Linked DNA regions of Homo sapiens: all the other regions are linked to region 4. Evidence: fine-mapped expression QTL. A gene starts in region 4. Each other region holds a variant in brackets. All regions are shown on one strand. Distances are between the middles of the regions. Region 1 has its middle 34 kb from the start of SNORD140. Region 2 overlaps TCF20 (transcription factor 20). Region 3 overlaps PMM1 (phosphomannomutase 1). Region 4 holds the start of DESI1 (desumoylating isopeptidase 1).

The links. PIP is the estimated chance that this variant, and not a neighbour inherited with it, causes the effect. A credible set is the group of variants that fine-mapping cannot tell apart.
Region 1: its variant is the best candidate, but not a certain one, in a credible set for the expression of DESI1 in subcutaneous fat (FUSION, PIP 0.68).
Region 2: its variant is the best candidate, but not a certain one, in a credible set for the expression of DESI1 in spleen (GTEx, PIP 0.85).
Region 3: its variant is the best candidate, but not a certain one, in a credible set for the expression of DESI1 in whole blood (TOPMed, PIP 0.57).

The regions. Positions count from the first base shown.
Region 1 is chr22:41,035,655-41,043,281 of GRCh38, reverse strand. No RefSeq gene overlaps it. Among named protein-coding and RNA genes, the nearest start is that of SNORD140, 34 kb to the left of the region's middle. The variant A/T (reference allele first, on the strand shown) is at 3,824.
Region 2 is chr22:42,228,943-42,236,569 of GRCh38, reverse strand. The region is part of intron 1 of TCF20 (transcription factor 20); the gene reads left to right. Among named protein-coding and RNA genes, the nearest start is that of TCF20, 38 kb to the left of the region's middle. The variant T/C (reference allele first, on the strand shown) is at 3,222.
Region 3 is chr22:41,575,859-41,583,485 of GRCh38, reverse strand. It overlaps PMM1 (phosphomannomutase 1), which reads left to right. Exons shown (of 8, transcript NM_002676.3): 6 at 4,605-4,680; 7 at 5,563-5,678; 8 at 6,046-6,586. The coding sequence ends at 6,168. CSDC2 (cold shock domain containing C2) reads right to left here. Exons shown (of 4, transcript NM_014460.4): 4 at 6,820-7,627. Among named protein-coding and RNA genes, the nearest start is that of PMM1, 10 kb to the left of the region's middle. The variant C/G (reference allele first, on the strand shown) is at 3,012.
Region 4 is chr22:41,616,359-41,623,658 of GRCh38, reverse strand. DESI1 (desumoylating isopeptidase 1) reads left to right here and starts at 2,616. Exons shown (of 6, transcript NM_015704.3): 1 at 2,616-2,907. The coding sequence starts at 2,820. XRCC6 (X-ray repair cross complementing 6) reads right to left here and starts at 2,364. Exons shown (of 13, transcript NM_001469.5): 1 at 2,314-2,364; 2 at 1,573-1,669. The coding sequence starts at 1,654. RefSeq lists a silencer at 2,596-2,865 and enhancers at 2,597-3,198, 4,471-4,530, 4,541-4,610.

The sequences.
Region 1 (7,627 bases), 580 kb after region 4:
ACGTCTGTAATTCCAGCACTTAGGGAGGGTGAGGCAGGAGGATCACCTGAGGTCAGGAGTTCGAGACCACCCTAGCCAACATGGCAAAACCCCATCTCTACGAAAAATACAAAAAATTAGTCAGGTGTGGTGGCAGGTACCTATAATCCCAGCTACTTGGGAGGCTGAGGCAGGAGAATTGCTTGAACCCAGGAGGTGGAGGTTGCAGTGAGCCAAGATTTTGCCATTGCACTCCAGCCTAGGAGACAGAGCAAGACTCTGTCTCAAAAAAAAAAAAAAAAAGGCAAAGTAAATAGTGGCTACGATGGGTCTATATGCACCCACATATATATACACACACATATATATACACATATACACACATATATACACACATATACACACACATACACACCTATGCACACACATATATAAACATGCATATACATATACACACATACATACACACACATATGCACACACATACATATATATATATACACACACACATATTAAACATGCATTACCTACCAAATCTGCCATTCCATTTGGTGTTTTGTAAATTGTGTACCATTGAATTCCCTTCCCCCACAAAAAGTACATAGAAATGGTCATTCAGTGGCTGTGGAAAGAAACACTTCTTCCTTCTAGGTCCAATTCTTTCCCTCTCTTTAAATCTTTCCCATGTGATTTAAAATTGTGGGCAGAAAATTATATCTGGGAGCTAAATGATAAGAAGCTATGAACACAAAGAAGGAAACAATAGACAGTGTGGTCTACTTGAGGGGGGAGGTTGGGAGCGGGGAGAGGAGCAGGAAAGATAACTATTGGGCATTGGGGTAATACCTGTGTGATGAAATTATATGTACAACAAAGCCCCATGACATGTGTTTACCTATGTAACAAATCTTCACATGTACCCTCAAACCTAAAATAAAAACTAAAAAAAAGAAAGTTATATCAACCTATTTGCTGCAAAACGGTTTTATTTAGCACACACTATTTGTAAACTCTTAAAAAAACTAAATCAAGGCTGAGAGCGGTGGCTCACGCCTGTAATCCCGGCATTTTGGGAGGCTGAGGCAGGCGGATCATGAGGTCAAGAGATGGAGACCATCCTGGCCAACATGGTGAAACCCCGTCTGTACTAAAACTACAAAAATTAGCCAGGCGTGGTGGCAGGCGCCTGTAATCCCAGCTACTCGGGAGTCTGAGGCAGGAGAATCGCTTGAACCCGAGAGGAGGGTGTTGTAGTGAGCCGAGATCGCGCCACTGCACTCCAGCCTGGGCAACAGAGCAAGAGTCCATCTCAAAAAAAAAAAAAAAAAAGAAAGAAAAGAAAAATCAAATTACACTTTTTGGTGTAACGTTGTCTTCAATATCAATATAAAAAGCAAGTGCAATTTCCTTTCACATAGCATAAAACAGTAACGAAAGAATTATTTTTGCCCCATACTACCTTTAAAAGTATAGTAAAGCCAGGCACAGGGGCATGTACCCGTAGTTCCAGCGACTTGGGAAGGTGAGGGAGGTGGATTGCGTGAGCCCAGGAGTTTGAGGTTGTAGGGTTCTATGATTGCACCTGTGAATAGCCACTGTACTCCAGCCTGGGCAACGTAGTGAGACCCCATTTCTAAAGAAAAAAAATTTAAATAAATAAATAAATGTGTGGTAATGAAATTGAAGGGACCACCATTGCATATATATTTTTTGGGGGGCCAGGTGGTGGGGGTGGGGGATGGAGTCTTGCTCTGTCACCCAGGCTGGAGTGCAGTGGCACGATCTTGGCTCACTGCAACCTCCGCTTCCCAGGTTCAAGAGATTCTCCTGCCTCAGCCTCCTGAGTAGCTGGGATTACAGGCGCCTGCCACCACGCCCGGCTAATTTTTGTATTTTTAGTAGAGATGGGGTTTCACCATGTTGTCCAAGCTAGTCTTGAGCTCCTGACCTCGTGATCCACCCACCTTGGCCTCCCGAAGTGCTGGGGTTACAGGCGTGAGCCACCGCGCCTGGCTCATTGCATATGTTTATGCATGCAAAAGCTTATTTTATTTACTCTTCTAAGTTAAAAACGCTTTTCTATGATACCAAGTGAGAAAAGGGAAATCTATAATCAAACATACAGGCTGGCATGGTGGCTCACGCCTGTAATCCCAGCATTTTGGAAGGCCGAGGCGGGCGGATCATGAGGTCAGGAGATCGAGGCCATCATAGCTAACACGCTGAAACCCCGTCTTTACTAAAAATAGAAAAATTAGCCGGGCATGGTGGTGGGTGCCTGCAGTCCCAGCTACTTGGGAGGCTGAGGCAGGAGAATGGCATGAACCCGGGTGGCGGAGCTTACAGTGAGCTGAAATCACACCACTGCACTCCAGCCTGGGCGACAGAGCAAGACTCTGTCTCAAAAATAAATAAATAAATAAAATAACACATACAATATGACTACAATGATATTAGAAAACTGAAATATACCTAATAAAGGAAAAAGAAGACTAAAAAGAAATACACAAAATCAAGTTGTATGTTACCAAATTTTCCATAATGTAATACTAGTTTTATGAAGAAAAAAGAAACCAAGAAATAACAGATTTTAAGGAAAGACATAATGAAAGTTATTGCATAATACTCTCATTTGGGGGCTGGAACATTAGGAAATAATTTCTGTGGCCCACTATGTACAGTGGCTCCCACAAACTACATCCTCCCTTCGGAAATAGCAGAGCCTTAACTGATTGGCTTCACCCATGTTCAGTCAATGTCAGAATTCAGCCAAGGGAGTATCTTTTTACCTTCTAATAAAACAGAGAAGGGCCAGGTGTGGTAGCTCATGCCTGTAATCCCAGCACTTTGAGAGGTTGAGGCAGATGGATTGCTTGAGTCCAGCAGTTTGAGACCAGCCTGGGCAGCGTGGCGAGACTGCATCTCTACAAAAATTACAAAAATTAGCTGAGTGTGGTGGTATGTGCCTTAGTCTCAGCTACTTGGCAGGCTGAGGTGGGAGGATCACTTGAACCCGGGAGGTGGAGGTTGCGGTGAGCCGAGATCCCACCATTGCACTCCAGCCTGGGCAACAAGAGTGAAATTCCGTCTCAAGAAAAAAAAGAAAGAAACCACCTCACTTCTTCCCAGAGAGCCTCACCTCAGACAGACAGGTCTTTCTTTTTCTTTTTTTTTTTTTTCTTGACCTGGAGTCTCGCTTTGTTGCCCAGGATGGAGTGCAGGAATGCAGTGGCGTGATCTGCGCTCACTGCAACCTTTGTCTCCCAGGTTCAAGCGATTCTTCTGCCTCAGCCTCCCGAGTGGCTGGGATCACAGGTGTGCACCACCATGCCTGGCTAATTTTTTTGTATTTTTATTAGAGATGGGGTTTCACCATTTTGGGCAGGCATGTCTTGAACTCCTGACCTTAAGTGATCCGCCCGCCTTGGCCTCCCGAAGTGCCGGGATTACAGGCGCAAGCCACTGTGCCTGGCCCCTCCCTCTTTCTGTTCTTTTCTTTTCTTTCTTCTTCTTCTTCTTCTTTTTTTTTTTTTTTTTTGACACAAGGTCTCCTTTTGTCACCAGGCTAGAGTGTAGTGGCATGATCATGGCTTATTGCACCTCGACCTCCTGGGCTGAAGCGATCCTCCCACCTCAGCCTCCTGAGTAGCTGGGACCACAGGTGTGCCCCACCATGCCAGGCTAATTTTTTCATTTTTTTTTTTTTAAGAGATGAGGTCTCCCCATGTTGCCCAGGCTGGTCTGAAACTCCTGGGTTCAAGCAATCCTCCCACCTTGACCTCCCAAAGTCCTGGGATTACAGAGTGAGCCACAGCTCCCGGCCACAGGATATATATATATATAT[A/T]TTTTTTTTTTTAGAGAGAGACAGGGGTCTCACTGTTGCCTGGGTTGGTCTCAAACTCCTGGGCTCAAGCCATTCTCCTGCCTTGACCTCCCAAGATGCTGGGATTACAGGTATGAGCCAATGCACCCAGCTTGTGGCCATAGGATTTTGTTTTACTACATAAATCTGGGTTGTAAGTTGCAGCTTTCTCTCTGTTGTTTTATCACTAACAAATTTGGTTGCCAAGGCAACCATGCAGCAATTTAATCTCTTGACACCCATCCACCTAGGCTGGGGTCAGTGGCAGGAGTTTGGGGTTGTATTTGGTGTTTTGTAAATTCTGTACCATTAAATTCCCTTCCCCCACAAAAAGCATGTAGAAATGGTCATTCAGTAGCTGTGGAGATTCACAGTTTCCCCTTCTAGTTCCAATTCTTTCTCTCTCTTCTTCCTCCCTGCCAATGAGACATGTGCAAAGAGCCAATCAGAGAAAGAGTAAGAAGGAAGAGTACCTTGTGTCCAGGGAGAGCGTCGGCAGGGAGCAGTGCCTGGGGATGATCTCACATTAAAACCTGGAATTGTAGCCTCTACCGAAAAATTGGAAGGTCTTGCAACACTGGGCCCACAGTTCCTCCGGAGGCTTCTGCTTGGTGCTAAGTAGCAATGACTCCCTCCAGACAGGAGCCACATTCTCCACCAATCACTGCCTCTCACTTACATTTTTGTGCCTGGTCCTGGCAGGCATCTATGTAGACTCTTTTTTTCTTAGTCTTTATTATTCATTTATTTTTGAGGTGGAGTCTCCCTCTGTCATCCAGGCTGGAGTGCAGTGGCGCGATCTTGCCTCACTGCAACCTCCGCCTCCCAGGTTCAAGTGATTCTCCTGCCTCAGCCTCCCAAGTAGCTGGGACTACAGGCGTATGCAATCGCACCTGGCTAATTTTTGTATTTTTAGTAGAGATGGGGTTTCGCCATCTTGGCCAGGCTGGCCTCAAACTCCTGACCTCAGGTGATCCACTCACCTTGACCTCCCAAAATGCTGGGATTACAGATGTGAGCTTTCGCACCTGGCCTAGCCTATTTATTTATTTATTTATTTAGAAAGCAGGTCTTGGCCAGGTGCAGTGGCTCATGCCTGTAATCCCAGCACTTTGGGAGGCTGAGGCGGGTGGATCACAAAGTCAGGAGTTTGAGACCAGCCTGGCCAATAGGGTGAAACCCCGTCTCTACTAAAAATACAAAAATTAGTCGGTGTGGTGGCAGGTGTCTGTAGTCTCAGCTACTCAGGAGGCTGAGGCAGGAGAATCACTTGACCCCGGGAGGCTCGGAGGTTGCAGTGAGCCGAGATGGTGCCACTGCACTCCAGCTTGGGCAACAGAGTGAGACTCTGTCTAAAAAAAAAAGAAAAGAAAGTTGGTCTTAGGCTGGGTGCGGTGGTTCACACCTGTAATCCCAGCACTTTGGGAAGCCGAGGCAGGCGGATCACGAGGTCAGGAGATCCAGACCATCCTGGCTAACACGGTGAAACCCCGTCTCTACTAAAAATAAAAAAAATTAGCCGGGTGTGGTGGCATCTGCCTGCAGTCCCAGCTACTTGGGAGGCTGAGGCAGGAGAATGGCGTGAACCCGGGAGGCGGAGCTTGCAGTGAGCTGAGATTGTGCCATTGCACTCCAGCCTGGGCAACAGAGCGAGACTCCACCTCAAAAAAAAAAAAAAAAAAAAAAAAAGGAAAGCTGGTTTTGCTCTGTTGCCCCACCTGGACTGCAGAGGTGAGATCATAGCTCACCTGCAGCCTTGATCTCCCAGGTTCAAGTGATCCTCCTGCCTTAGCCTCCCATGTAGCTGAAACCACAGGCATGTGCCACCATGCCCAGCTAATTTTATTTTATTTTTTGTAGAGATGGAGGTCTCATTATGTTGCCCAGGCTGGCCTGGAACTCCCGGGCTTAAGTAATCCTCTCGTCTAAGCCTACCAAAGGTTCAGGATTGGGATTACAGGCATGAGCCGCTGTACCCCACCTTAGAAAGCTTTTAATTCACTAATTCTCAACTTGAGGTATGATGGAAGAATATTCTCTGAAAGATTTTTCAAACTACTTTTGTATACTGAAAAGACTCTAACACAACTCCTTCCTACCGTCCTTCTTCCCATCCTCTCCCCACACATAATGAAAGTCACCGTCAGAAACCCAAACCTCACTCCTGCCACACTGTCAGTACTGAAGTATGGAATTTCCACCCACAAAGTTTCCCTGATCCTGCAGGAATATGTGTAGACGCTCACTCTCATTTCACACAACAGCATTCACGCCCCCTCCTCTCCAATCCTCACTAGAGTCTGTAACCTAGCAACACAACATCTATTGGGGTAGCAACCTCTCGCCAATTCATTCATCCCTTCAGTAGACATTGAGTGAGCTGCTCCCACGCCTGGGATAGGCAAGCACTCAGAAAAGATTTGTTGAATGAATGAATGAAGACACAGGGATGAATGAGGCCCCAAAGGAGGTCATACTCTGGGAAGGAGAAAAACAGACTAAAGGCCGGGCGCAGTGGCTCATGCCTATAATCCCAGCACTTTGGGAGGCCAAGGTGGGCAGATTACCTGAGGTCAGGAGTTCGAGACCAGCCTGCCCAACATAGTGAAACACCATCTCTAGTAAAAATGCAGAAAATAGCCGGATATGGTGGTGCGTGCCTGCTATGCAGGAGGCTGAGGCAGGAGAATCATTTGAACCCGGGAGGTGGAGGCTACAGTGAGCCAAGATCATGCCATTGTACTCTAGCTTGGGCGACAGAGACTCTGTCTCAGAAAAAAAAAAAAAAAAGAAAAATATACTAAAAAAAAAGTTGTAGGTCGGGCGCAGCGGCTGACGCCTGTAATCACAGCACTTGAGGAAGCCAAGGTGAGTGGATCACCTGAGGTCAGGAGTTGGAGACCAGCCTGGCCCCATCTAAACCCCATCTGTACTAAATATACAAAAAATTAGCCAATGCGTGGTGGTGGGCGGCTGTAATCCCAGCTACTTGGGAGGCTGAGGCAAGAGAATCGCTTGAACCCAGGAGGCAGAGGTTGTAGTGAGCCGAGATTGCCCCGCTGCACTCCAGCCTGGGTAACAACAGTGAAACTCCGCCTCAAAAAAAAAAAAAAAGGCCGGGCGTGGTGGCTCATGCCTGTAATTCCAGAACTTTGGGAGGCCGAGGCGGGCGAATCACCTGAGGTCAGGAGTTCGAGGCCAACCTGGCCAACACGGTGAAACCCCATCTCTACTAAAAATACAAAAATTAGCTGGGCGTGGTGGCAGGCGTCTATAATCCCAACCCCTTGGGAGACTGAGGCAGGAGAATCTCTTGAACCCGGGAGGTGGAGGTTGCAGTGAGCCGAGATCATACCACTACACTGCAGCCTGGCTGACAGAGCAAGACTCCATCTCAAAAAGAAAAAAAAAAAAAAGGGTTGTAATACAGGCCATAACAGATGCATCTGTGCATATGTAAATTGCAAGGAGGAAGCTACTGTCCTGTTTAGGAAAGTCAAGGAAAGGAGAGGGGACATTTCAGTTGGGACTTTTTTTTTCCTTTGAGAGAAAGTCTGAATCTGTCCTTCAGGCTGGAGTGTGGTGGCATGATTTTGGATCTCGGCCCATTGCAACCTCCACCTCCTGGATTCAAGCGATTCTCATGCCTCAGCCTCCTGAGTAGCTGGGATTACGGGTGTGCGCCACCATGCCCAACTAATTTTTGTATTTTTAGTAGAGACGGGGTTTCATCATGTTGGCCAGGCTGGTCTCGAACTCCCAACCTCAGGTGATCCACCTACCTCG
Region 2 (7,627 bases), 610 kb before region 4:
CTCTTGCACTTTAGAGGCCATCTGCCTCCAAGTAGAGCTCCAACTGTCAGGCCACTGTCCCTCTGTGGGGAGGGTGGGGATTGGTCCTGTGGCTTGTAGTTCTTGCCATATAGATTAAGAATGCGCTCCGTCGGCATTCTTCATTGTGAATTAGAGGATTGATGAGGATTTAACCCTGCTGTGATTTCTATGAATGGACTGTAGATCCCAGGGTGTGGGATCTTTCCTAACTCGAGAATGACAAAAATTACCTGTCACAGAGTGCTGTTACACCAATCAGTAGTTATTTATTGTGTTTTTTAGGGTTTATTTTGTTTGTTTGATAACCTCTTTTCCATTTTTTTCCTTGTTGTCTTTTACTTGTTTTTTTGTTTTTGTTTTTGTTTGTTTTTTTGAAGTGGAATCTCACTGTCACCCAGGCTGGAGTGTGCAGTGGTGAGATCTCGGCTCACTGCAACCTCTGCTTCCTGGGTGTACAAGCAAGTGATTCTCGGATTACAGGTGCCTGCCACCATGCCCAGCTAATTTTTGTATTTTTGGTAGAGACAGGGTTTCACCATGTTGGCCAGGCTGATCTTGAACTCCTGACCTCAAGTGATCTGCCTGCCTCGGCCTCCCAAAGTGCTGGGATTATAGGCGTGAGCCACCATGTCTGGTGTCTTTTACTTATTTTATTATTGGTTCAAGTTTTTACCTGAGAGAGGGAAAGAGGGTGGTAATTCTAACAGTGATAATTTTGATTTATATGGTACTTAGCTGTTTGCAGACTTACTGTGGGACATTCCCGTGTGGTGGCAAGGTAGGTTAACTCCACTTTTGCAGGTGAAGAATGTGAGACATATGGGTTAAATAACTTGCCCAAGTCACAGAACAAGTGGCAAGACTAGGAAGTATTTAGATTTCTTAATTCTAAATGTAGTACTTTTTCCAACAGATGACCCAGAAGAATCAATAGAAAACAAATTTAATAGTGGAAGCAATTGTATGTACAAATAAAATTGTATTTTTTGTTCACTTCGCTTACTAAAATAAAATCCTATTTCTAGATGATTTTCTAAACATGTTTTTCTTGGTCTCTTTGTTCAAGTCATTTAGTTTGACTCTAGGTAAGATAGTACTACTCAATGTTCTTTCTGTCACTTCAGGAGAGAGATGGTGTGCACCAGTTGATACCCAATGTTCCCTTGTTCTTCTCCCTGATATTACATCAGAGAAGTCCCCAGTTGAGAAGGGAGGAGGAAAGTTTTATGGTTACTGTTCCTCAAATCTCTTGGGAAAGACAGCAAACTGCTGTCAGGAGTAGTTTTCTTTTGTCTCAGTGTCTGTTACATTTATACATGGCACCCTCCTTATCATAGTTATGGCTTGCACCCTAAAATAAGGTCTAGAGCGACAGACATTTACAAAGTTCTTTTTTTTTTTTTTTTTGAGACAGAGTCTCATTCTGTTGGCCAGACTGGAGTGCAGTGGCACGATCTCGGCTCACTGCAACTTCTGTCTCCTGGGCTCAAGCAATTCTCCTGCCTCAGCCTCCCGAGTATGTGGGACTACAGGCATGCGCCACTATGCCTGGCTAATTCTTGTATTTTTTTTAGTAGAGGTGGGGTTTCACCATGTTGGCCAGGCTTGTCTTGAACTCCTGACCTCGTGATCCGCCTGCCCTGCCCTCCAAAAGTTCTGGGATTTACAGGCGTGAGCCACTGCACCCGGCACAAAGTTCTTATGCTACCGAAATGATCTTTTTGTTCTTCTGACCCTAATTATTAGGTTTTCTGACCCTAAATTAATTTGCTAATTCTTGATGCTCTTCTTGGATACTTAGATGTAACTATTTCACCTTAGTTTGGAGTTAGCATTTTGATGTTTTTAATATATTTGAAATAATCCTGCAAACTATTTTTTGGTTTGGGCTTTTAAGTGGGACGCTCAATCTTCAGAAGGACTTTTAGCTTATGGACACTTAAAAAAAGCAAGAACTAGCACATTGTTTCTTGGTATTTTGGAATTGTGGTGAGTTTGAGGCAACCGTGGAAGTGTAGAGTGTGTTGACTCACCTCCGCTCCTCCTAACTCCTGTGTTCATTTCACAGGAATTAATCGTCCAGACAATATTCCTCCCATGCCTGCATCCCCAGCCATATGGAGAGGACCCCATAAACTGTAAAAAGGTTCATTGGCTTTTATCTGGAGGGGACTAAACCCATAGAACTCGGTTCTGCTTTTTGCTTCATTTGACAGGTTGACCTATGGTGTTGGTACGTCCAGTAAAATCAAGTCTAAATGCTTTGGTTGACTGCATTTCTCATTGCTTTGCTCAGGAAGGCCAAGGACACATTAAAATCTGTTTGTCCCCTCCTATATTTTCTTTCTAAGGTTGTTAGCCAGCACTTTTGTTTTACAGTGTGTTTTTGTTTGGACTCGACTTCTGCTCGTAAATTAGGATGTGGTCAGTTAAGAGCATTTTGAATTTTAAACGTGTCTGTTTCACTGGTTTTGTGTCTCCATGTTTATGTATAGGGAAAGTAAGTTTTCATGTTTTTACATTTTGTTTGTACTAAACTTAAGTGCTTTCTTTCAAGGGCTAGAGGCATTGAAAGTAATTTTAAAAACTCTAAAGAAACCTTTTTATTCTCATTGCTTACATTTTTAATAACAAGTTAGGTAGCTTTTATTCTTCAGAAGTGGGATTTATTATGTAAAGCCACTTTTTGGAAGAGGTGAAAATTAACCTGCCTTTCCTTATGCCTCAGTGAGAGGTGAGGTTCAGAGCAGAGAATGCAGGTAGGGATTATGGAAACCCTTTCTTGGTATTAATTTTCCTCACAGATTAAAACTTTTGGTCTTCATCTGTTACCTTTACATTTGTCAGAAAGAGAATTTATATTGTCAACTTAATTCACCCAGTGTTCGATTGCTTGCTCTGTGCGTGGCAGTAAGAGAACTAAGGTCCCACGCTGTGGGGGAAATAGAAGGGTAGATAACTCTGGTAATGCTTATCATGGCTTGTGTTCTAGGAAGGTGTTAAGGGAAAAGTGCGATTTGCACTGGACTTGAAAGGTGAGTGGTATGTCAGCAAAGCTGGTATTATTCACGCAGAAGGACCAGGCTGAACAAACGAAAAGGTGCAGAAGGTGCCTGCTGGGTGTGCTGGGAATACACAGAACATTGCTAAGAACAGTAGAAGTTAGGGCACATTCCTTGTTAGTCCCAGCCTGTCTTCCT[T/C]ACTGACTGGCTGTATAACCTTATGAGAGTTACTAAACTTTCTGAGCCTTTGTTTCCTCATCTGCAGAATGGCTAGTTACTGCATAATAGAGTTAAGATTAAATGAGACTATAATATATTGCATTGCAGCTGGGTGTGATGGCTCACACCTGTAATCCTAGCACTTTGGGAGGCCGAGGCAGGTGGATGACTTCAGGTCAGGAGTCCGAGACCAGTCTGGCCAACATGGTTAAAACCTCGCCTCTACTAAAAATACAAAAATTAGCCGGGTATTGTGGCACAAGCCTGTAATCTCAGCTACTTGGGAGACTGAGGCAGGAGAATTGCTTGAACCAGGGAGGCAGAGGTTGCACTGAGCCGAGATTGCACCAGTGCACTCCAGCCTGGACGACAGAGGGAGACTCTGTCTCAAAACAAACAAAAAATATTGCATTGCACATAATTTAAACACTCAATAAAAGTAGTTGCAATTATTGTTTTCTTTTAAATTTTATTTGTTTTAAAATTAGCATGTTGGTCAAACTAGTTTTTTTTTTTTTTTTTCTTTTTGGAGACGGAGTCTTGCTCTGTTGCCCAGGCTGGAGCGCAGTGGCACGATCTAGGCTCACTGCAAGCTCCGCCTCCCGGGTTGCTGGGACCACAGGTGCCCGCCACCACGCCGTGCTAATTTTTTTGTATTTTTTTTAGTAGAGATGGGGTTTCACCGTGTTAGACAGGATGGTCTCGATCTCCTGACCTCGTGATCCGCCCGCCTCGACCTCCCAAAGTGCTGGGATTACGGGCGTGAGCCACTGCGCCCGGCCGATCGAACTAGTTGCTGAAAGATGACTATGCCCTGTAATCCCACCCCCAAAACATCTGTTGTCAGCAGTTGAATGAATATCAGTCGTCTTTCTAATTTTCATCTCTGGCACCTTTGGTGCTGGTGGTACGTTGTTTTTTTTTTGTTTTGGTACAATCATGCCTCAGTTAACAACAGAATATTTCTAAGAAGTGCATCATTGAGTGATTTTTGTCGTTGTTCTAACATCTTAGGATGTACTTACACACACCTAGCCTGGGTGTAGCCGACTGCCCATCTAGGCTATGTGGTATAGCCTATTGCTCCTAGGATACAAACCTGTACCGCATGTTACTGTACTGAATGCTGTAGGAGATTGTAAAAGAGTGGTAAGTATGTATCTGCATATGTCTAAACATAGAGAAGGTACAGTAAAAATAAGGTATAAAAGATAAGGAAGTTGTTCTGGGTGAGTCAGTGAGTGAATGGTGAATGAAGGTAAAGGCCCAGGACGTTACTGCACACTACTGTAGATGTATAAACACTGTACATTTGGACTACACTAAATTTATTTTTTAAAGTTTTCTTGTTTTGATATTATTAACCTTAGATTACTGTAACTTTTTTTTTTTTTTTTTTGAGACGGAGTCTCTCTCTGTCGCCCAGGCTGGAGTGCGGTGGCTTGATCTTGGCTCACTGCAAGCTCCGCCTCCCGGGTTCACGTCATTCTTCTGCCTCAGCCTCTCGAGTAGCTGGGACTACAGGTGCCCGCCACCACACCTGGCTAATTTTTTGTATTTTTAGTAGAGACGGGGTTTCACCGTATTAGCCAGGATGGTCTTGATCTGCTGACCTTGTGATCCACCCGCCTGGGCCTCTCAAAATGCTGGGATTACAGGCATGAGCCACCAGTCCCTGGCCAGATTACTGTAACTTTTTTACTTTAAAAACTTTAAAAATTTGTAACCTTTTGACTCTTGTAATAACACTTAGCTTAAACCACAAATACATTGTGCAGCTGTTCAAAAATATTTTCTGTCATTGTGTTATTCTATAAACTTTTTTATGATTATTATTAATTACTCTTAGAGATAAGGTCTTACTCTGTTCCAGGCTGGAGTGCAGTGGCACAGTCATAGCTCCCTGTAACCTCAAACTCCTGGGCTCAAGCAACCCTCACTTAAGCCTCCTGAGTAGCTAGGACTACAGGTGCATACCACCGTGCTTGGCTACGTTTTTTTAGTTTTTATAGAGCTGGAGTCATGCTATGTTGCCCAGGCTGGTCTCAAACTCCTGGCATCAAGCAATCCTTTCTCCTCTGCCTCCCAAAAGTTCTGGAATTGTAGGTGTGAGCCACCAGGCCTAGCCACTTTATAAGCTTTTTTTTCTATTTATTATCATTATTTGAGACAGAGTCTTGCTGTGTCGCCCAGGTTGGAGTGGAATGGTGCAGTCTCAGCTCACTGCAGCCTCCATGTCGCGAGTTCAAGCGATTCTCCTGCCTTAGCCTCCCAAGTAGTTGGTACTACAGGCACACGCCATTACACCTGGCTAATTTTTGTGTTTTTTTTAGTAGAGACGGGGTTTCACCGTGTTGGCCAGGCTGGTCTGGAATTCCAGACCCCATGTGATCCACCCACCTTGGCCTTCCAAAGTACTGGGATTACAGACGTGAGCCACCTCACCGAGCCATATTTAAATATTTTTTATTTTTTATTTTTTCACTTTTTAAACACTTTTGTTAAAAACTAAGACACAAACACATGCATTAGCCTAAACCTACACAGGGTCAGAATAATCAATATCACTGTCTTCCAGCTTCACATCTTGGCCCACTGGAAGGTCTTTAGGGTCAGTAACACACATGGAGCTATCATCTCCTATGATAACAGTGTCTTTTGTTTGTTTGCTTTGGTTTTTTTTTTGAGACAGTCTCTCTCTGTCGCCCAGACTGGAGTGCAGTGGCATGATCTCGGCTCACTGCAACCTCCACCTCCCAGGTTCAAGCGATTCTCTGCCTCAGCCTCCTGAGTAGCTAGGACTTATAGGCACATGCTCCCACACCCAGCTTTAGTTAACTATTTTTATAAGTAGAATACATAGTATACATAACATAGAATTCTACATAGGATATGTAAACCAGTAACATAGTTTATTTTCAAGTATTATGTACTGTACATAGTTGTATGTGCTATGCTTTTATACCACTGGCAGTATATTAGGTTTACACTTGCATGACCATAAACAAGGAGGTAATATGTTGCATTATGACAGCTACAGCATCACCAGGCAATAGGAGTTTTTCAGCTCCATTGTACTCTGATGGGACCACCATTGTGTACGTGGTCATTGTTGACAGAAATGTGTTATGTAGCACGTGACTATTTTTATTGCTGTTGCTTCAACTTTAAGGTGTTTGGGAGGCAGGGAAGGGAAAGCTGTGTGGTACACCTGGAAGACAAGTCTGCATGTGCTGTACTAATAATTGGGAGCCAGTGAAGGTTTTAAAATAGGGGGTGAATTAATCAGATCTTTTTCAGTAAGATGCTGAAATGCAAGCTGGATTGGAGGGAAGTCTAGTAGCAGAGCAACAAGTGTTTGCTTGGCTGCTGTTTGAGGACCTTGTAGATGTGAGACATGTTTGTTACATGCCTTCAACAATACATGGCTCAGCTGGGGAGATAAGGCATTCATACCAAGTGGGGAAATAAGGACACAGCCACCAGGTAATGGTGTATGGACAAGAAGTGCTGTAGCTGTTTGGGGAAGGCAAGATCACCAAGCTGAGCCGTTTTCCTGAAGCCTTCAGTGAGGAAGCCAAATGGCCTTGAGGAATGACTCAGATTTGGAAAGTGTTTTGGGGAGAGGCCAAGCACAAATCAAGAGGTCGGAGCGCATGGTCTGTGTGGAGTGGTGGGTTTGGCCAATAGTGAGCAGTATGGTTGGAAAGGAAAATTGCCGTGGCCTTCAACAAACCTGTTGTTACGCACCCTATCTTCTGACCCTCTCTCTTCACTGTACTGTACCTGCGTTACTCTCTTGCAGTTTGAGGCTTTTCAGGATAGAACAGTGTCCTAGTTATTTTCCCAGGTCTAGTAAACAGCCCAGCACATAGTAGATGCTTAAAAACAACAATAAAAGAATGATTGGATATTTGCTGTTTATGGAAGTTACAGACTGGATATCCTGCCGTTCCCTTAAACTTAGATCTCAAATAAAATCCTAATATCACCTCTCTCCTTCCCTTTTTTATTCTGTGCTAAGTTTAAACAGGTTAGGTGCCCCTCTGCTCCCACAGCTGTGTGCTTACCTTGCCATTCCATAATTATGGACATCTCTGCTGTGATCATACTGCATGACTCTCACCAGCACGTTGGATGTCCAACATGTCACATTTGCTTGGGACCCCCCCACTGCCTTTCCTCCTTCCTACTTCTTCACTCTCCTTTTCTGGCTTCTTTTCCTCTTCTCCACCTTCTAAATGATAGAGTGATTGCAGGGATCAGTCACTCCAAGTTAGCCTCTAGACCAGTGGTTTTAAATCTTTTTGTTCAGCCATACCAAATGCCGGACAAGTACAAACACACTACACCGTCTTGTGCACACAGACACAACAGAAACAAAA
Region 3 (7,627 bases), 40 kb after region 4:
GGAGATAGAGTCTCCAAAAAAATAGATAGAGGCTGGAGTGCAGTGGCATGATCTCAGCTCACTGCAACTCCCACCTCCCGTGTTCAAGCGATTCTCCTGCCTCAGCCTCCCAAGTAGCTGGAATTACAGGCATGCACCACTACACCCAGCTAATTTTTGTACTTTTTTAGTAGAGGCAGGGTTTCACCACGTTGGCCAGGCTGGTCTCGAACTCCTGACCTAAGGTGATCCGCCTGCCTCGGCCTCCCAAAGTTCTGGGATTACAGGCATGAGCCACCACGCACAGCCCATTAGAACCTTTCAAACATGTCAGCCGCATTCACCCCCCAGCCCCACCCCCTCATTTACAATCCTTCCTTGGCTCCTCGTTGCCAACTGGATGATGTCCTAGCCCCCTGCTATGGTGCCTCAAGCCCTGAGGGCTCTGTCTGGCTCTGGCTCTCCGCGTCTCCTTTCTATGCCCTTCAAGTTCCACTTTCTATTCCTGGAACACACCAAGGTCCTCTCACCTCTGCCTGTACTGCCCCTGCTAAACCTTGATGTGCATTTTGCTTTTCTCCCCACCGCCTCCCTCCCTCTCGGGGATGGAGCAATCCACCCATCCAGACCTTTCCATGCTGGCCCGTCCACGTCATTCTGTCATTCTCTCTGACCTGTTCGGTGGCTCTCCCTGCCCTCTGCTCCAGCTATGGCCTCTTGGCTGATTCTAGAGTGCTGTGCCTCTGTCAGAGCACACTTCTCTCAGGCCCAGCTCGTCCCTCCCCTCCTTCAAATCCCCTTTCACATCCTTTTCCCAGTGGGGCCTCCGAGAGTATCACATCCACTGCTGCACTTCCTCCTCCTTCCCCTACCTTATTTCTCCCCAAGTAGCCTTGGACAACTTTCATCATCTACTTTTAAAATCCGAATTACTGTCTGTCCCTGTCCCAGAACTGTAAGCTCCATGAGGGATTTCTGCGGCTTGTTCTCCTCTGGATCCCCTATGCTTGGCACATGGCATACTTTTTGTTGTTATTGTTTTTGAGACAGGGTCTTACTCTGTTGCCCAGTCTGGAGTGCAGTGCAGTGATCCAGTCCTAGCTCACTGCAGCCTCGATCTCTCAGGCTCAAGCGATCCTCACACCTCAGCCTCCTGAGTAGCTGGGACCACAGGTGCATTACACCATGCCAGGCTAATTTTTAAAATATTTTGTAGGGATGGGATCTCGCTGTGTCTCCCAGGCCAGTTTTGAACTCCTAGCCTCAAGTGGGCCTTCTCCCTCAGCCTTCCAAAGCACCAAGACTGTAGGTGTGAGCCACCGCACCTCGCAAAGAAATACCCTTTTTTGTTTTTTTTTTTTTGGAGACTGAGTTTCGCTCTGTCACCCAGGCTGGAGTGCTGTGGCACAATCTCGGCTCACTGCAACCTCCACCTCCCGGGTTCAAACAATTCTTCTGCCCCAGCCTCCCAAGTATCTGGGACTACAGGCACATGCTGCCACGCCCGGCTAATTTTTTTTTTTTAGACAGAGTCTTGCTCTGTCACCAGGCTGGAGTGCAGTGGCACAATCTCGGCTCACTGGAACCCCTGACTCGCTGGTTCAAGCGATTCTTCTGCCTCAGCCTTCCCAAGTAGCTAGGATTACATGCACCACAATGCCCAGCTAATTTTTTGTATTTTTAGTAGAGACGGGGTTTCACCATGTTGGCCAGGATGGTCTCGATCTTCTGACCTCGTGATCCGCCTGCCTCAGCCTGCCAAAGTGCTGGGATTACAGGCGTGGCCACTGTGCCCGGCCTAATATTTTGTATTTTAGTAGAGATGGGGTTTCACCGTGTTGCCCAGGCTGGTCTCGAACTCCTGAGCTCAGGCAATCCACCCACCTCAACCTTCCAAAGTGATTATAGGTGTGAGCCACTGTGCCCGGCAAGAAATACCTTTTGAATGAATGAAATGAGCTGTATTATCTCCATTTTATAAATGAGGAAACCAAGGCTCGATGAGAAGGGCCCTGCCCGAGGTCACATAGGGAGTTGGTTGCAGAGCAAAGATTTGATTTTGCCATTGGCCCTCTGGTGCCTCCCTGAGGGTGCCTCTCAGCTCAGTGACTCCTGACTCCCACCTGTGCCCTGAGGCTTAGGGGAGGCAGTGCCCACAGGCACAGGGACTTTTTTTTTTTTTCTTGATAGAGTCTTGCTCTGTCACCCAGGCTGGAGTGCAGTAGCATGATCTCAGCTCACTGCAACCTTCGCTGCCTAGGCTCAAGCAATTCTCCTGCCTCAGCCTCCTGAGTAGCTGGGATTACAGGCCCATGCCACCACACCTGGCTAAGTTTTTTGGTTTTGGTTTTGGTTTTGGTTTGGTTTTGGGTTTTTTTTTTTTTTTTTTTTTTGAGATGGAGTCTCACTCTGTCGCCAGGCTGGAGTGCAGTGGTGAGATCTCGGCTCGCTGCAACCTCTGCCTCCCGGGTTCAAGCGATTCTCCTGCCTCAGCCTCCCAAGTAGCTGGGACTACAAGCGCCTGCCACCACGCCCAGCTAATTTTTGTATTTTTAGTAGAGACAGGGTTTCACCATGCTGGCTAGGATGGTCTCGATCTCTTAACCTTGTGATCCGCCCTCCTTGGCCTTCCAAAGTGCTGGAATTACGGGCATGAGCCACCGCGCCCGGCCTAATTTTTGTATTTTTTAGTAGGGACAGGGTTTTGCCATGTTCAGGCTGGTCTCAAATCCCTGGCCTCAAGTGATCTGCCTACCTTGGCCTCCCAAAGTGCTGGGATTATAGATGTGAGCCGCTGCGCCCGGCCACGGGGACTTTTTTTTTGGGGTAGTTAGGATTGGTCTTAGGCAAAGAACCCTTCCCCCCCAATACACGTGCTGAGAAGTTATCCCTTCCTGTCCACCCAGGTTCCCAGTCCCAGCTCTACCCATTTGCCTTGTAACCTGGAAAAGCATCTTTACTAACGTGTGCCTCAGTTTCCTTATGTGTAAGGTGGGGGTAATAGCAGTTCCCATCCCATGGGCTGTCATGAG[C/G]ACTGGATGAGGTGGCACATGGACCCCACCTGGCATGGAGTTGGGGAGCCACACCCTAACTCCCCACCCCAGAGCCTTCTCAAGTATTTTTGGCTCTTGTTTGCTCCCTTCTGGCACTGGAGGAGCATGAACCTTCCTGATCTGTGCGCCCTGCCCTGGCCCAGAGCTGGTGTAAATAAATGCTTAACCCAGCTCATCTTCCAGAACCCTGAAGCGGGGATGAGTACTTCCCTTCCTTAGATGAGGACACTGAGGCCAGAGGGTGAGTAACCAGCTCGAGGTCACAGTGCCGGTCCCTGCTGAGGCTGGCCTTGCACATGGGGCTGTCTAGTGACCAGCCTTGTTCTCCAGAGAAGGGAGGTGCAGCCAGCCTCGGCCATGTGGAAACATTTCTTCAGAGCCTGGGGCAGTCTTAGTGGTAGCCCTGGGCCTACAGAGTGGACGCTGGTGGGGACTCTGGCCTCCCTGGGGCCCACCTACCTGCTGGAAAGCCAGGCCAAGGCTGGCAGGGGGCTCACATCCCTTATCTCTGCTTTTCCATGAGAGGGAAGCAGGCAGGGGTCATTCATTACTTCTCTGTCCTTTAGTCCAGGAAATAGGCTCAGAGAGGTCAGGTGACTTGCCCATGGTCACACAGCTGAGGAGTACAGTAGCCAAGCCTGGCTACTTGCCTTCAGATCTCAGGCTAGGGGGTGTCTGGCTTTATATCTGACATCCTCCCTGGGCCACTTCTCCAAGCTCCATGCTGCTGACCACTGCCTGCCTTTCCGCCCCAGTCCTACCCGGCTCTGACTACAGGGCCATACCAGCCACCCCACTCCTGTGCTCCAGAATCCTCAGCGCCTCTTGGTCCCCCAGGATGTGGTCAGACTTCCCAGCCCGGTCTCGAGACCCTCTGTCAGCTGAATGTCCTGCTGGCTGGTTTAGATGTTCAGCTGCCCCTCAGACTGGGCATAGCTGCTCCCCTTTGTGGCCCTCTGAGATGGAGATCCTGGGGGCTGGCGGGGAGAATGTCCCCCTGCTCCACGTTTGCGGAGCTGCTGCCAGAGTTCCTGCTCAGAGGGACGGGGCCGGCCTGGGCACTACCTAGTCCCCAGCCCAGCCGCGTCTTTGCATGCTGGGTGCTCTGCCATGCCTGGCATCCTGCTGCCCTCTGTGAATGCCCACAGCCACCTCCTCACAGGTCTCCTGCTCTCAGCTCCCATGCTCATTTCTGAGTATTTGCTTTGTTGAGCTGGTTACAGATAACAGGATCGAGCCCTGCCCTGAGGTGGACACTGATGTGGGATCCAGATTGCCCCGTCTCCTCGCCCTTCCTACTCGTGTCTCTCCTCTGAGGTCTCCTTCAGAAGACCCAGCCCACAGCCCCATTGGCAGCCCCATCCCTTCTGGATTTAGGCCCTGGCTCTGCCACCAGGGCTAGGTGACCTTGACCAAGGCACAACCCCTCTCTGAGCCTTAGTTTGCGCATCTGCACAGTTGGGGGTCCTACCCACCTAGAATGCTCAGCACGCTCACGTGGACTGTGTGCCCAGCCAGGGCCTGGCACACAGCAGGTCCTCTGAGCTGCCATCCGCTCCCTCCCCTCTGCAGAAAGAGAAGATCCGGGAGAAGTTCGTGGAAGCCCTGAAAACAGAGTTTGCTGGCAAAGGGCTGAGGTTCTCTCGAGGTACGTCCACCCTGCAGAGGACCTGGGAGGCCTGGTACAGGGCCCCTCCTCAAACCATCTGCCCCTGCCAAGACCAGGCTGTGGCCCCCAGTAGCTTTAGTAGCCCCTCCCCGGCTCAGGGCAGAGAGGGTGGCTGAGCCCGATGCAGAAAGGGGTTCAGTGTTTACTGGCCCCCAGTTTTCCCCACCTCATACCTCAGAGGTAAACGCCCCATGCCCACCCAGTTTCTCAGGCCAAAAAACCAGAGCCTCTCCCTTGAATGCTCTCCCCCACCCCTTCCCAAGTCCAAACTCCTAGAAGTCACAGGGCCCCCTGTCTGGAATCCCACCGGTGCTCACACTTCCACTGCCAGCAGCTTGTCCCAGGCTCCAACTGACCCTGACACAACTGGGCTCCCCTCTGCCACCTCACCCATTCCCCAGTGGCCAGAGAGGCTGGAGCTGGAGTCATGACATGCCTCTGCCCAAAGTCCTCCCCAGGCTCTTCCTCCCTCTCCATGTGATGCCCAGGGCCTGCCCGTCCTCCCCCTACCTCTCCTGGCCTCCTCCGTTGCTGGGACGCTCGTTCTCTTCCCTGCCTCAGGGGCTGTACTTTGCGCCCCAGCCATCCCCACTCGGCTCAGGTCCCAGCTCATTGCCACCTCCTCAGAGGTCTCCCCTGATCACCCTGGCCGGATGAGCTTCCCCCACCCACTTCATGGTCTTGTTCATTCTCCAACCTGTGTCATAACTTCCTTGAGGATCCTAAGTCTGTCCCGTGTCCTATTCCTGGCCCTCAGTAGGCACTCAAGGGTTGTTGAATGAATGAATGAACAAGCAGCCCTTCTGTTAGCCTTGTCTGCCCCTCCCAGCAGGGAATAACAGTCCCCACCCCTGCCCACAGGAGGCATGATCAGCTTTGACGTCTTCCCCGAGGGCTGGGACAAGCGCTACTGCCTGGATAGCCTGGACCAGGACAGCTTCGACACCATCCACTTCTTTGGGAACGAGACTAGCCCTGTGAGTGTGGCCCACCCCAGGTTTCCCCTAACGCAGTGGACAGTGAGAAGCCAGGTCTGGTGGCTTCTCCAATGCAAATCACCTGAGGTCAAGGCCAGAACATGGGGCAACACAACAGACCTCTTAGGGGGCTCCTGGAGAACAACCATTGCTCACCAGCCCCGTTACACAGATTGGAAAGCTGGGGCCCCAAGAGGCTGGGCACTTGTTCTACATCACACAGCAAGTCAGGGCAGGTCTGACAAGGGGTGAGAAGGTGGGCTTCCTGGCAGTTCTGAAGGGGCAGGAGGAGGGGCAGGTCCGTAGCAGCCAATGTGGAGAGGGACTCCACCTAAATATCCCTCCTCTGCCCATCCTCTGTGTGCAGGGTGGGAACGACTTTGAGATCTTTGCCGACCCCCGGACTGTTGGCCACAGCGTGGTGTCTCCTCAGGACACGGTGCAGCGATGCCGGGAGATTTTCTTCCCAGAGACAGCTCATGAGGCGTGACCGGGGCCCACATCTGTGTGTCGTGACTTCTGAAGAGTTTGGCCTAGGCCTAAAGAGAGGTCCTGGTGTTGGATAGATGCCAGGGCCCCTCCTCTGGCCCAGGACGCCTGCTGCAAGCCCACCCAGATGGGGCCAGAGTCTGTGTGGACAACCGTCCCCAGCCAGTCTGCTCCTAGTGGCACTGGCTTCGTCCTCCCAGGGCCCAGAGTGTTCCCCATGCTCCACCTGGTGGCCCAGGCCACAGCTGCTGCTTGTATTTCGGTACAGAAGAGGTTTCTTTCTGCACCAGGAGGAGGCGTGCTCAAGTATCGGTACGAGATCTAGCCTGCCCTGCCTGCCTGCCCTGGGCGATGAGGTACGGTGGGGAAGGTGCCTATTTTAGAGAACTTTGTCACAGTATTAAAGTTCCCAGAACAAAGTAGGTGTCAGCTGTGTCTGAATGGATAATTGGCCCCAGTCACATGCTGTCACAGCCACTACTTTGCCGACAAGTAAACAGCACAGAGAGGGCAGGGACTTGGCCCAGGTCACAAAGGAAGTCTGATGCAGTCGAGGAGGGGGCCATTGAATCCCCAAAGAAGAGCTGGTTTGGTGTGTCCACCCCCAGCCCCTTCCTTGGGGACCCTGACACAGAGGCAGCTTCAGGCCACGGTGGGTCACAGTTGAGGGTTTATTGCCAGTGTTAGGAAGAATGGGGGGTCTGGGTGGCCAGGGGTCTTGGGAGGAATTCCAAATGAGCACTGCAGGGCCTGTGAGTGGGGAGGAGAGCTGCTGCCCCCCTGCCACCCAGGAGGCCCCAGGGCTGATGCCACCATATCCTGACTGCTAGTGGTGCCTTAAAAGGTGGCCTCCCCACAGGAGGGGAGCCTTGGGGGCCCCCAGGAGTCAGCCCTCACCAACAAGCCCTCTCTCAAGGGGGCCAGGGGCCTTTATTCCTCATGGGACAGGCTGGGCCGTGCCCATTTTAGGGGAGCTGACCACACCTCAGCAGCTCTGGGCTCCCAGATTTTATGTGGTGGGCCCTGGGGCCGGGGGTGGGATGCAGGCATCCCGGCTGATTTCTACCCTGCGGTCTTGGGGCACCTACAAGGCAAGGGATCCTCCTAGACAGTCACTGATCCCCTCATCCTGGGCATTTGAGCCCCCAGTTTTACTCACAGACTGAGTCTCATAAGGGTCCCACCCCTGGCCAGCCCTCCCTCGAACCACGGCCCCACTTCTCCCCGGTCAGGCGATGTGCTCTCTAGAAGGGAGGGTGGTAGGCAGGGGGTGCACCCAGAGGTGGAGGCAGACAGGGCCCTCCTTCCTGGCCTCCTGGGCCAGGCCACCCTCACCCCTGCCTGGGAGTGAATGGCCACGACCCCGGGTGCACACACATCTTGGCCCCAAAAGGACTCCAGGTGACAGCAACAGCCACACATCTTCAGGGATGGATGCAATAAGAGCCACACCTCGGCCA
Region 4 (7,300 bases):
TCCCAGCACTTTGGGATGCTGAGTAGGGCGGATCACAAGGTCAGGAGATCAAGACCATCCTGGCTAACACAGTGAAACCCCGTCTCTACTAAAAATACAAAAAACTGGCCGGGCGTGGTGGTGGGCGCCTATGGTCCCAGCTACTCGGGAGGCTGAGGCAGGAGAATGGCATGAACCCGGGAGGCGGAGCTTGCAGTGAGCCAAGATCGCGCCACTGCACTCCAGCCTGGGCGACAGAGCAAGACTGTCTCCAAAAAAAAAGAAAAAGAAATCAGATACAGTCTGGGCATGGAGGCTCATGACTATAAACCTAGAACTTTGGGAGGCCAAGGCTTGGGGGTATCGCTTGAGGCCAAGAGTTTGAGACCAGCCTGATCAACATAGCAAGATCCTGTCTCTACAAAAAATTAAGAAATTATTGGGAGTTGGCGGCACTTGTAGTCCCAGCTACTGAGGTAGCTGAAGCAGGAGGATCACTTGAGCCCGGGAGTTTGAGGTTACAGTGAGCTACGATGATCTCACCACTGCACTCCAGCCTGTCTCTATTAAAAAATTAAAAAATATATATATTTCATTAGGAAATAAATATTGAAAGATACTTGAAAGAAAAATACAAAAATGTCAAAATGCTGGTAGTGGTTGTGTTAGAGTGGTAGATTATAGCAAATTTTTTTCTTTTTTGTATTTCCTATGTTTCTCACTTTTTTTTTTTTCCTGAGAGAGTCTCATTCTGTCACCCAGGCTGGAATGCAGTGGCGCCATCTCGGCTCACTGCAAGCTCCACCTCCCAGGTTCGCACCATTCTCCTGCCTCAGCCTCCCGAGCAGCTGGGACTACAGGCGACCGCCACCACGCCCGGCTAATTTTTTGTATTTTTTTTTTAGTACAGACGGGGTTTCACCGTGTTAACCAGGATGGTCTTGATCTCCTGACATCGTGATCCGCCCGCCTCGGCCTCCCAAAGTGCTGGGATTACAGGCTTGAGACACCGCGCCTGGCCGTTTCTCATTTTTAATAAAAATATTCAAAATTTTTCTGCTCAGGAGTTAAATTAACCAGTATGAAGATTACATGTACCCCTATTTCTCTTCCTTTGTTTTATGTGTTACTGTGTTGCCTGCACATACACTCCCAAACGTGGAGGCTATAGTGAGGGAATCAATCACTTTCCTGTAACTGTGTTGCTTGCGTTTATTCTTTGGTTGGTGTAGTTATTGCAGGGTGGGGGCATTTTTACACTGAGGTCCTGGAATGGTAACACTACTTTCCTGGATGAGAAGGGTCTCACCTGAACCACTTAAGATGACAAAAAATACCTATGGTCATGGCCATTTATCAGGGACCAAAAGATGTCAAACTACCAGTGTCCAAAAAAAACTTAGGGCACACTAGAGTAAGATCTGCATATAAGAGCCTAGGGTAGCTCTGCGAAGTTCAAAGGAAGAAAAGAATTTCAGAATTATCTGGGAGGAGAAGGGCAGGCCATCAAACAGCAAAGTCCATCCAGCAGAGATAGGCAGGGAAGGTCTTTCTTCCACACACCGAATGGCACTACATGCTGAAGTCACTTACCACTTGCTTCAAGGTTCTCTTCTTGTTCTTCCTCTGCTTCTTCATCGCCCTCGGTTTTGTAATATGACTCCCACCCTGACATGTTGGCTACTGCTCACTAGGCGAAAGACGTTAACGTCAGTAACAGGCAAATTTAAATCGAAAAAATACCGACCTCTAGGTTCTTGTGAGATCTGTTCTAAAAGCTTGGTTAGTAGTGAGGAATGTGGACGGTAAATCCTGCTGCCTCGAAAGCTCGGCAGTCGGACTGCATGTAAATGCGCATGGGGGCCATCCCAGTAGCTGCCTCATCTCAGCTATCCCTCACGTTTCAGGGCCGGCGGCGGCCCGCGGAAGCCAGATCCCGGAGGTCCCGCCCCCGACGCCATTTAGACGGTGAGGGATTCCCGCTCCAGGATTCTATGCTGACTAACGGACCCCCTCGTCCTCAATACCGCCCAAAAACCTCCCCAAATTCCTCAATCACGCCCAATGAGATCTCAAACGCAGACAGGCCTCAAGCGCAGGCGGGCCGCAAGCGCAGGCGGGCCTCAAACGCAGGCGGGCCTCAAACGCGAGGTGCCGCCTCCTTCCCGAGGAAGGAGCGTGGTCTCGAGTCTGTCGCTGCTCCTCGGATTCGCACACTTAAGGCTAACGCTAACCCTCTAGCAAGGCTATGGGGGCGCGCGAGACCGACCGAGCGAAGCGGGACGAGGCCAGGCCTAGCTGGCGAACAACACAAATGGATAACGGCCCGCTTACCTTTGGCGCAGGGAAGCGACCAACTTGGACAGAAGACGACAATCCACGCATGCGCGGGCCCTGTACTCGGTCCCAATCAACGCCCTCTACGTCATCACGCATGTGCGCACTATATCGCGTCAGGCTGGCACGCACACTCCCCAACCAGCTTCTACCTATGTCCCTGACGAAAGCCAACCCATCAGCGAGAGCCCCGCCCCCTTCGGCAAAGCCCCGCCCCTTCCTACGTCAGGACTGTAAGCACATGCGCAAAAGTGCATCCCTGCCCCCGCCCCCTCTTCCGTGTGGGCCCTCCCTGTCCCCTCTCTGTCACCTCACAGTAGTCGTTGCCGGTAGCGGGTGTGGGGGCGCGAGCAGCGCAGGGCGGCCTCTCCCCCACCCCTCAGCCCGGGCCCGGGCTCGGTCCCCCCCTCTCCCTCCGCTTCGCACTCCCGTCGGGTACGGGAAGGTCCAAGCCGCTGCCGGGTGCCCGAGGGCCGTCGTGGCCGCCGTCGCCACGGGTCCCAATGGAGCCGCCGAATCTCTATCCGGTGAAGCTCTACGTGTACGACCTGTCCAAAGGCCTGGCCCGGCGGCTCAGCCCCATCATGCTGGGTGAGGGGGAAGGGGCCAGGTGGGCAGGAGGGCGGGAGCCAGGCCAGAGGGTGGCGGCTGGCCGAGGTGGGGAGACTTGGGCCACGACTCACGGGGAGACACATGGCCAGGAGGATGGAAGAAAAGCCGAGTGGAGAAGAGAGTGGTCTGAAGTTTGGGCCATCTGAGCCCCGCTTTAGCCTCGCAGATACCATCCTCACGTTTGAATTCAAGGGGAAGGGATGGAGGAGTCATGCCTCCACCTTGCAGGGGGCTTGGGCAGAAACCGAGCCCTCGAGAGCCCCTTCGACGAGGGTGTGGGGTAAACCAGCGCTGGATCCCGGCGGGTTCTCTGCCTCGCTCGGGTAGCCCAGTGCACTCCTGCCTCCTTGGCGCGGTGTAGGAAAGGTGAGGATGCCTGCCGCGCGGTGCCCCTCGTGGTGACAGAGACACTGCGGAGGTCGGGTGGCTCTCGGAGAACCTTGTCTCAGTGCCAAAAGGAAGCTCCCTTTGCAGTCCCAGGGATAGGTGGGATGGGGGAGATAGAGCTGCCTAGGGACCCAGCCATCGCCCCCAGGTAGGTCAAGTCAGGATAAGAGGAGCCCCGAACTCCAGAATTCACCAAGCAGTCTTCTCCCCACAGTTTCTAAGTTAATTGCTTTTGCTCAAATGGCAAGAAAGCAGTTTTGGGGGAAGTTTGGATGAGGCTGTGTGAATAAGGATTAGTAAAGAAAGTATTTCGGTTGTGCTCCATTAAACTACTTAACTGGCAGGAGAAAAACCAGCCCTCATTCAGTGACGATCACACCTTATTTCAACTTAAATACAGGAATGTCTTGTGTAACACAGGAATTGTCAGGTTTGTAATTTCGGGTAACAATGAGCAGGAAAGAATTCCAATTATTGAAAATTGAAGCTTTGACAGCATCCATTTGAATGGCTAGTTTTTCCTGGCTTCTGTGGAGACACTGGCGAATGATTTAGTTCATCTCTGTGAGACGAGGGGGCAGAGATCAAGTAAGGGAGGCTACTTTTGAGGGCATCCTTCAATGTCCTTGAGTTTCTAATATGTCGTAGTGAATTGAACTTAATCTCACAACCGTGGGTCCATGAGTTGTTTCTATATTTGGCTTCACATCAAAATCATCTAGGGTGCTTGTTAAAAATGCAGATACCCTCATTTCCAACATATATTGTAAATGAGATTAGAAAAAACAAGGTTAGAATAGCTCTTTAAATATGCAAATCAAAGGATATATATGTGCTTGCTTAGGCAAATAATTATCCGTAAGGATACACAAGAAATTGATAACAGCAGTAGCTTATGGAAAGGGGAACTTGATGCCAGGGGAACAGGGGTAGAAGAGAAACTTTGCTGTAAACTGTTTCTTACCTCTGGACCTGTGTATTACATACACATAATATCTATTTAAAATGAGAAAATTTTAATTATATGGATTCTAAGGCTTCACAAATACTAAATCAGAATCTCCTGGAGTTTTGGTCCAAAAATCTGTATTTTTAATGAGCTTATCAGCTAATTCTTATGTAGCCAACCCATTATTTGACAGGGATTTGGGCCTAGATAACCAGTTGTTAAAATGATTGAGGCACATCTGAAAGCAAAACTTACAAAGTCACTGAGGAAGCTGTTACTCATTAATAGATTACATCAGTCAAGTGTTTTTTTTTTGTTGGTTTTTTTTTTTGAGACGGAGTCTCGCTCTGTCACCCATGCTGGAGTGCAGTGGCACGATCTAGGCTCACTGCAAGCTCCGCCTCCCGGGTTCACGCCATTCTCCTGCCTCAGCCTCCCGAGTAGCTGGGACTACAGGCGCCCGCCACCACAGCCGGCTAATTTTTTGTATTTTTAGTATAGACGGGGTTTCACTGTGTTAGCCAGGATGGTCTCGATCTCCTCACCTTGTGATCCGCCTGCCTTGGCCTCCCAACGTGCTGGGATTACAGGCGTCAGCCACCATGCCCAGCCCACATCAGTCAAGTTTTAACTAAACTTCTTGGAATGGAGCCATTTAGTTGTTTGTTTTTTTATCATAGTGAGGAATCAGATATTTCCTATACCCCACGTAAAACCTCCCCCTTTACACTGGGTATTTTTTATCCTATTACCTAATAATTATTGGGCAGCTGAAAGGAGCCTTAGGAGTCATTATTTCATTCATTCAGCAGATGTTTATTGAGCGTCTGCTCTATGCTAGTCAACGTGTTAAGGTAAATGAGGTTGATATAATGAACAAAGATGTTCTTTGCCATCATGGAGCTATCTAATGGGGGAGACATTAAAAATAAATACATAAATAATTAGTTACAAATTGCATAAGTGCCTTCTGCACAGGAAGCACACTGGGTGCTGTGATAGAAAATAACAAGAGAGACCTTTTTTTTTTTTTTAGACGAGTCTTGCTCTGTTGCCCAGGCTGGAGTGCAGTGGGGTGATCTCAGCTCACTGCAACCTCTGCCTCCCAGGTTCAAGTGATTCTCCTGCCTCAGCCTCCAGAGTAGCTGGGATTACAGGCGCATGCCACCACACCTGGCTGATTTTTATATTTTTAGTAGAGACAGGGTTTCACCATGTTTGCCAGGCTGGTCTTGAACTCCTGACCTCAAGTGATCCGCCCGCCTCAGCCTCCCAAAGTGCTAGGATTACAGGCATGAGCCACTGCACCCAGTGAAGAGACCTATTTTAAATAAGGGTATCAAGGGTAGTGACTTTGAAAGTGGGAATTTAGGATGAGGAAGAAGTAGCCACAGGAGGGTAGTAAGGGAGTAACAGTGTTCCAGGTAGGAGAAAGATCAACCTGCCAAAGCCCTGAGACAGGAAAGAGTCTGGCCTGATACTGGAACTGAAAGAAGGCTTTTGTGGAGTGTAGTGGGTGAAGGGGAAAGTGCTGTAACTGAAGATGGAGTAATAGACCTGCCCCCTTCCCACTCCCCGCCCTTTTATATAGATGTAAAGTCCTGGAATGCCTCAGCCAAACATGGGAACATCACCCATTCATTGGGCACATCAGATTCTGATCTGAGGAAATCACCTTGTGTGCTAATCTACTTCTGTCTTCTCTACCTCTTTTTTCCATATTGCTTTTATACCTTTTGCAAAATTAATGAAGAAAGAATTAGCAAAGCTAGTAGTCATTACTTTCTAGAGTTGAACACTTAAGGAAAATAGGCATGGTCTTACTGATTCATCCCATTCAGACAACACAAATCTTGAAGTTGGGTATGTCCCAGTGCTATAAGTAGCCATATATTGATTTCCCATTCCTAAATACATTTGAACCTTTAAAAAATCAATTTGTTTCCTGATTTTTATGATGAATTCTAGAAGTATATTAATAGCCACTATTTATTGAGAGCTTACCATGTGTCAGACCCTTTTTTTCTGAGTACTTTGCGTGCATTATAATCCTCACCACAACTTTGTGAGATAAGTCCTGTTATTGCCTCCATTTTCTTGATTGAAGAACCTGAGAAGTAGAGTGTTAAGGAATTTGCCCCAGGTCCCAGAGCTACTAGGTGGTAGAGCTGGGTTATGAACACAGGCAGTCTGACTTCCAGAGCTCGCGTTCTCTGTCATTTTGAGATACCACCTCTGTGTAATACGTTCCTTTAAAATTGAAGTAAAGTAGATGCCTTCCTGAAGTTTGTAAAGGCATCCTTTGCCAAATGTTTCAAGTTTGGATGAGAAAAAAAGCTGGGTTCAATGTGTATGTGCCACTTACAATCTAGATTTATGATCATGCCTCTTAGTCTCCATTTTCCCAAATTAAATCCATGTGATCTCATCTGCAGTACCCTCTCAGGCTTCAGTTATGTCAGTTCTCCAATGGGAGACCTCATCTAGCTCTGTCGCAGTTCAGGATTAGACTAGATAAAGCCCAAGGTAATTCCCCTTTCCTGAAGCAATGTAAATTCCGTAGTTTTAGCCTGTCCTGTTTTCAGCCTCCTGGAATTGCCTCAAGTGAAGGCATTACTGTTCTATAGCTTTTCATTCACTATGAAAAATGGTCCCAAAATTATCTTCAGCATTCTAATTGAGCAGATAGCCTCATTGCACCTTTTTTCATAGTCACCAATTGCCTAAAATAATTAGCTATTATAAGTGTCCTTCAGTTCCTCCTCTTAATAATTTTGGCTGCTCTTTAAGTTTCTTGACCTCTTTTTGTGCCACAGTACATGCAGAAGTGTGTGTGTGTGTGTGTGTGTGTGTGTGTGTGTGTGTGTGTTTTAATTGTGGTAAGAAGTACTTCATATTTGTTTATTATTTTCTGATCAGAAGTTTCGTGTACATGCATCACGTTTATTTTTCTTTACAAGCCCATTTCAAAACTGTTTTCAGACTTAAAGATTTGGAGACATAGAATATATAAATTGCTTGGCAGAATGAATTCTA